Linked DNA regions of Homo sapiens. The protein of the gene in region 1 purifies or fractionates together with the protein of each later gene. This does not show direct contact. Each region holds a gene or a part of one and is shown on either strand. Other genes may lie near its edges.

Region 1 (3,500 bases):
CTTTATATGCTAGGAAGCGGGCTACACAAAAGACTTGATAACACTAATTTTACCACAGCCAGATTCTGGGACTCAGAGCTACTTACATGGTAGCTGTGGTGGGCCAGGCTACCACACTAGAATATAGGACACTATAGTCTTGTTATAGCCTTAGAGCAGGGGTCAGTAGTGGCCTGCTTTAGGAGGTTCCCCAAGCTAAGAATGTTCTTTACATTTTTAAAGGTTGTTTAAAATAAGAAGAAGAATATGTGACAGAGACTCTATATGAACAAAAATGCCTTAAATATTTACTGTATGGCTCTTTATAGAGAGAAGTTTTCTGACCCCTACCTTTGAGGTAGCCACATACAGTCCAGATTAATAGCAGTCTTAGTAGAGAAATGCCTTTTGGCCAGGTTCAAATAGAACATTTATTTGTTTTCAAGAATACTAAGACATTATTTCATGAGCAGCAATAGTTTTGGTTCCTAATGTTTTTCAGCATGCTGGGAAAAATGAAGGACTGAAACGTAATGTTCCATTTAGATTTTCAGCAGACTCCATTATCTGAATTATGAAATTCTTTAGAATTATATGTGGTAATAATTGAAAATTTATAGAAATTGATTCAGTCTAATTTCTGTTTATAAAATTATATTTCCAGGAAAATGGAAAAGCACCTGATGGGCAGACTGTAGCAGGTGAAGTGATGGGCCCTCAGAGACCTAGATCCAACTCTGGGAGAGAGCTTACTGATGAGGTAGAAATAGATTTTTTTGTTCTTGTTCTTAAAACATAAAGTACAAAAAACATAATGGGAAGATGAAAACGTTCTGGAGATGGATGGTAATGATGGTTGCATGACAATGTGAATGTACTTAATGACCCAGAACTATACACTTAAAAATGGTTAAAATGGTAAATTTTATGTTATGTGTAGTTTACCACAATTTAATTTTTTTTAAGTTTATTGCTGTTACACACAAAAAAAAATACAGAAGAAAAAATGAAAATTGAAGATTGTCTTTGTTGATATGCTGGATGTAGCATCTCTGACTTAAACTTGCCCTTTCACTGTGTTGCATAGTGGAATAAATATATTGAAAGCAAGGTTTATATTTTATAGAAAGTGGGCTTTAAAAGAACTTGATATTGAGGCCAGGTGTGGTGGCTCACTCCTGTAATCCCAGCACTTTGGGAGGCCAAGGTGGGCAGGTCACTTGAGGTCAGGAGTTTGAGACCAGCCTGGCCAACATGGCAAAACCCTGTCTCTACTAAAAATACAAAAATTAGCCAGGCATGGTGGTGTGCATCTGTAATCCCAGTTACCCAGAGGCTGAGGCAGGAGAATCACTTGAACCTGGGAGGCGGAGGTTGCAGTGAGCCGAGATCACACCACTGCACTCCAACCTGGGCGACAGAGCAAGACTCGGTCTCAAGAAAAAAAATTTAAAATAATATAATAATAAAAGAACTTGATATTATGAATATATGTTATACCAAAATAAATTTTTTTATTATTTTAATGGTTTCTTATCATTAAAACTTAGTATGCACCTATTAGCCAACTTATTCAGAATTAAATTTTACAGCAAAATCTTAGTTGATGTTTCTTTAAAACAATACATTTCTTAAAATATTGCACTTTGGAAAACAGTTTGGCAATTCCTCAAAATGTGAAACATAGTGTTACCATGACCCAGCAATTCCGTTCCTTTGTATATACCAATGAGAAATGAAAACATATGTTCACACAAAAAAATGTACACAAATATTCACAGCATCATCATTCATAACAGCCAGAAAGTGGAAACAACCCAAATGTTCATCACTGATTGGATGGATAAATAAAATGTGGTATATTCATACCATGTTATATTTTTTAGCAATTAAAAGGAATGAAGGGATAAAGTACTGATACATGCTACAACATGGATAAACCTTGAAAACATCATGTTAAGTTAAAGAAACCGACATAAAACGCCATATATTACAGGATTTGATTTATATGAAATGTATGGAATAGGCAAATCTATAGAGACAGAAAGTAGATTGGTATTTGCCAGGGGCTAAAAAGAAAGGGAAATGAGGTGTGACTGCTAATGGGTAGGGAATTTCCTTTTGGGGTGCAGAAAATATTCTGACTTAGTGGCAATAGTTGTACAACTCTGTGAATATACTAAAAACCATTGAATTATATGCTTTAAATGAGTGCATTTTGTGGCATGTGAATTATATCTCAATAAAAATGTTAGAAATTATTGTGTGCAGTATTGAATATATCTAAAAAGCCTTTAGCTTAAATTTTAGGGGATTTTGTAGACTCAAAAAGATAATTAAATTGCAGGTCATCTTGGTGTGATTGTTTTTTTTTTTTAACCTCAGGAAATTTTAGCCAGTGTAATGATTAAGAACCTGGATACTGGAGAAGAAATACCTTTGAGTCTTGCAGAAGAGAAACTACCAACAGGCATTAATCCTCTCACTCTACACATCATGAGAAGGACAAAAGAATATGTAAGGTATGGCCTAATGTTGTTATTTGTCATTTCTAGTATTTCAGAGTTGTTAAGATTTCTCTGTTAATGAACTATGACAACCCCTAATTTGGTTTCATTCAGTCTTTTTTCTTCTGGAATTAAAATAGAGTTAGATAATGTATGTATTCTTTAACTTTGCTCTTCATTATGACTGTACAGTTACTTGGGGAAAATAGTATAAATATTAAATCCCATAGCACTTAATTTCTCTTTTTTAATGATTTAAATTATACTTGAGACAATATAAAAACAGTGAGGCAGCCAGGCGTGATAGTTCATGCCTGTAATCCCAGCACTTTAGGAGGCTGAGGCAGCACTTGAATTCAGGAGTTAGAGAGGAGCCTGGGCAACATAGTGAGACCTCATCTCCACAAAAATAAATAAATAAATTAAAATAACAGAAAAATGAGGCTAAAAAGCTATGTAGAATGAACACTTAGTCTTCTGAAACCTTGCTTTAAGGATCATAAATTGTTTAAATATTTGTACTGTTTTTGTAGGATCAGAAAATGGCTTTAAAATGAGATGAGTGACTTTACTACGAGATGTATGTGGATCTATTGAATCATTTTGGTAAAAGCAGGAGCTATTTTATTAAATGTAATGCAGGATGTACTTAATGAGTGGGGAGGAAGATACCTACAAGTTACTTTATTATTTCCCTATAGCACATTTTGCCAAGCAAAAAGGTTTGTTTGTAGTAGGTTTTTCATAAATTTCTAAATTGCATTCATTTACATGTTGTACATTGAACCTTGCTTAAAGATTCTTTTCTTCAATTTCTGAAGCCTTTAAGTTGTCAGGTCCATCATTTAAATTAAAATTATATGGGCCGAGCACAGTGGCTCACACCCGTAATTCTAGCACTTTAGGAGGCCAAGGTGGGTGGATTGCCTGAGCTCAGGAGTTCGACACGAGCCTGGGCAACATGGTGAAACCCTGTCTCTACTAAAATACAAAAAATTAGCCAGACATGGTGGT
Region 2 (3,500 bases), on another chromosome or scaffold:
TCCCAGGACAGCAACCCTGAGATGTATCCTGGGTGGATGGGGACCCCAGGCCTAGCAAATATGTCACAAACATCTCTCTTCCTCCTACAGACATACCATCTCTACCGACGAAGAAAAGAGGTGAGGGGGGCAGGGGAGGCGTGCGGCCTCCTGGGTTTGAGGGAGGAGGGGGCTGAGGGCCTGGACTCCTGGGTCTGAGGGAGGAGGAGGCTGGGGGGCCTGGACGCCTGGGTCTGAGGGAGGAGGGGGCTGGGGGGCCTAGACGCCTGGGTCTGAGGGAGGAGGGGGCTGGGGGGCCTGGACGCCTGGGTCTGAGGGAGGAGGGGGCTGGGGGGCCTGGACGCCTGGGTCTGAGGGAGGAGGGGGCTGGGGTCCTGGACGCCTGGGTCTGAGGGAGGAGGGGGCTGGGGGCCTGGACGCCTGGGTCTGAGGGAGGAGGGGGCTGGGGGCCTGGACTCCTGGGTCTGAGGGAGGAGGAGGCTGGGGGCCTGGACTCCTGGGTCTGAGGGAGGAAGGGGCTGGGGGGCCTGGACGTCTGGGTCTGAGGGAGGAGGGGGCTGGGGGGCCTGGACGCCTGGGTCTGAGGGAGGAGGGGGCTGGGGGGTCTGGACTCCTGGGTCTGAGGGAGGAGGGGGCTGGGGGCCTGGACTCCTGGGTCTGAGGGAGGAAGGGGCTGGGGGCCTGGACTCCTGGGTCTGAGGGAGGAGGGGGCTGGGGGCCTGGACTCCTGGGTCTGAGGGAGGAGGGGGCTGGGGGCCTGGACTCCTGGGTCTGAGGGAGGAGGAGCCTGGGGCCTGGACACTTGGGTCCTGGGCATTGGGTAACAGCCCTTGCCCCTGTCCTTTTGAACCCTCTCATCTCTCCTCAGAGTCTCACAGGAAGTAGTTGTGGGGTCAGGATGGGAAGGCCGGGCCTCTGCCTCTAGGGGGAGAGAGAGAGAGTGTGTGTGTGAGTGTGTGTGTGTGTGTGTGTGTGTGTGTGTGTCTTTGTGTGTGTTGAGCCCTCACTGTCCCTTCCCTACAGTGCTGCCGTGGTCAACGCCATTGGCCTGTACATGCGCCACCTTGGGGTGCGGACCAAGAGTGGAGACAAGAAGTCGGGGAGGAACTTCTTCCGGAAAAAGGTGCTTCCCTCAGTGCCCCGTCCTGACCCTTTCCTCTCCAGAGACGCCCTGGGAGCCTCATGACTCTGGATACCTAGCGTCAAATTCTGCTTTGTTGTTGTCTCAGAGATGCTTAGCCTGGTCTTCCTCCCCGCCCTCTCACAGGTGATGGGGAACCGGCGGTCGGACGAGCCTGCCAAGACCAAGAAGGGGCTGAGCAGCATCCTGGATGCCGCCCGCTGGAACCGGGGAGAGCCCCAGGGTAAGGCGGCTCTGGCCTCTGCCCTCCCCTGTCTTCCCCAGCTGCTCCCACTCACTGTCTCATTCTCTCTCGTTTCAGTTCCAGATTTTCGACACCTCAAAGCAGAGGTTGATGGTAATGTACCTGTAGCCATAGCATCCATACTGGGGGCCTGTGTGGGAGAGGCTAGGACCTGGACGCCTGGGTCTGAGGGAGGAGGGGCTGGGACCTGGACGCCTGGTTCTGAGGGAGGAGGGGATGGGGGCCTGGACACCTGGGTCTGAGGGAGGAGGGGCTGGGGGAGCTCCTGGGTCTGAGGGAGGAAGGGCTGGGCCTGGACCCCTGGGTCTGAGGGAGGAGGGACTGGGCCTGGACCCCTGGCTCTGAGGGAGGAGGGGCTGGGGGAGCTCCTGGGTCTGAGGGAGGGAGGCCTGGGGCCTGGACCCCTGGGTCCGAGGTAGGAGGGATTGGGCCTGGACCCCTGGGTCTGAGGGAGGAGCGGCTCAGACTCGGACTCTTAGGTCTGAGGAGGAAGGGCTGGGCCTAGACCCCTGGGTCTGAGGGAGGAGGGGCTGGGGGAGTTCCTGGGTCTGAGGGAGGAAGGCCTGGGGCCTGGACCTCTGGGTCTGAGGGAGGAGGGGCTGGGGGCCTGGACTCCTGTGTCTGAGGGAGGAGGGGTTGAGGGCTCCTGGGTCTGAGGGAGGAAGGGGCTCCTTGTCATGGTGGGGAAGGGCCTGAGCACAGCCTCTTGCATCCCCTGGCGGTTGTGGATTTGAGTTACTGTTCTCTTATCTCCCTCTTTCTCCCTCACTGTCTCCCCAGCCGAGAAGCCAGGTGCTACAGACCGGAAGGGAGGCGTGGGGATGCCCTCTCGGGACCGGAATATCGGGGCTCCTGGGCAGGACACCCCTGGAGTCTCTCTGCACCCTCTGTCCCTGGACAGCCCAGACCGGGAACCAGGTGAGAGTTTCCTGGGCCAGGGCTCCATGAGGCCCGGCGATCCAGGGTGGGGGTGCTGCCTGCCCCCTTGGCACCCCCAGATAGAAGCCATTCCCCAGCAACACCTCCCCTTTGCTCTCAGCATCCACTTCTCCCTGCTCCTGGTCACCACTGTCATTCATAACTTTCCCCTTCCCTCAGTTTGCCCTTTCCACAGCTTTGCTCCCAGGCTCTGACCTCTCTGCTGGTGCTGCGTCTCCCACCCCCTTGGACTACGTTTTCCATCAACCCTTCCTTTTCCAGAACCTTCCCTGAGTACATGACCAGTCCACCCTCTGAGCTGCATTGCTGGCCCCCTAGGTGGGGAGCCCGCCAGCCCCATGAGCTTCATCCCTCACCATCCTTACACTGCTGTGGCCTCAGGCCCTTGGATCTCTGCATGGCCAGGCCAGGGCTCACACACCAGCTCTGCTGACTGCTTGTGTTTATTTAGTATCTTGGATATGACTCCCCTTTCTTAGCCTCCGTTTGCTTTTCTCTAAAGGAGTATGAGAGGGTGGGGAGGATGAATGGACGTGGAGGCAGCACAGAATCCAGGGCCCTCCCGACCTCAGGGGGCTGCAGTCTGGTTGGGTGGGAGAGATGTTTGTGACCTATTTGCTAGGCCTGGGGTCCCCATCCACCCAGGACACACAGGGGCACCCACTTCTGTTGCATCTTCATGCTCCTGCCCCTAGTGGCCATGTTCTGAGAGGTCTTAACATCTGTCCGTCCCGTGCTGAAGTACAGAGCAGCCATGTGGTGTCTGCCAGGCACTGGGTAGCTTTAGCCCCCGCAATTCCAGGCCCCCAGAGTGTGGGTCTCGTGGCCGCAGAGGCCTTCCAGCCAGCCCTGCTCCCTCCACCCCACAGGTGCTGACGCCCCCCTGGAGCTGGGGGACTCATCCCCGCAGGGCCCAATGAGCCTGGAGTCCTTGGCGCCCCCAGAGAGTACCGACGAGGGGGCCGAAACCGAGAGGTGCCCAGGCTGGGGTGCAGGGGCGGGAGGTGTGGCTTACTGGGCGCTGGTGGGTGGGTGCAGGGTCACCGCTGCCATCTGTGCCTGCCTGTCCCAGGCTCTTGCTCCCCATGCTCCTCTGCTGCTCTCTGGGTCTGGCCATTCCTCTCCCTTCTTCTTTCCTTTTCTCATCTCCCTCCTGCTTCCTCATTGCCCCCCTTT

The links. Proteins that work in one complex are often made in the same cells at the same time.
Region 2: the proteins of WDR44 (region 1) and ARHGEF1 fractionate together in Homo sapiens (co-fractionation; one large-scale study listed by BioGRID). This does not show direct contact.

Annotation. Positions count from the first base shown.
Region 1 is NC_000023.11:118,394,606-118,398,105, forward strand, and holds part of WDR44 (WD repeat-containing protein 44), read left to right. Parts: intron 1-643; coding exon 644-739; intron 740-2,364; coding exon 2,365-2,501; intron 2,502-3,500. UniProt on the Homo sapiens protein: Downstream effector for Rab11 which regulates Rab11 intracellular membrane trafficking functions such as endocytic recycling, intracellular ciliogenesis and protein export.
Region 2 is NC_000019.10:41,893,184-41,896,683, forward strand, and holds part of ARHGEF1 (rho guanine nucleotide exchange factor 1), read left to right. Parts: intron 1-90; coding exon 91-120; intron 121-1,023; coding exon 1,024-1,123; intron 1,124-1,267; coding exon 1,268-1,364; intron 1,365-1,442; coding exon 1,443-1,478; intron 1,479-2,165; coding exon 2,166-2,303; intron 2,304-3,193; coding exon 3,194-3,299; intron 3,300-3,500. UniProt on the Homo sapiens protein: Seems to play a role in the regulation of RhoA GTPase by guanine nucleotide-binding alpha-12 (GNA12) and alpha-13 (GNA13) subunits. Acts as a GTPase-activating protein (GAP) for GNA12 and GNA13, and as guanine nucleotide exchange factor (GEF) for RhoA GTPase.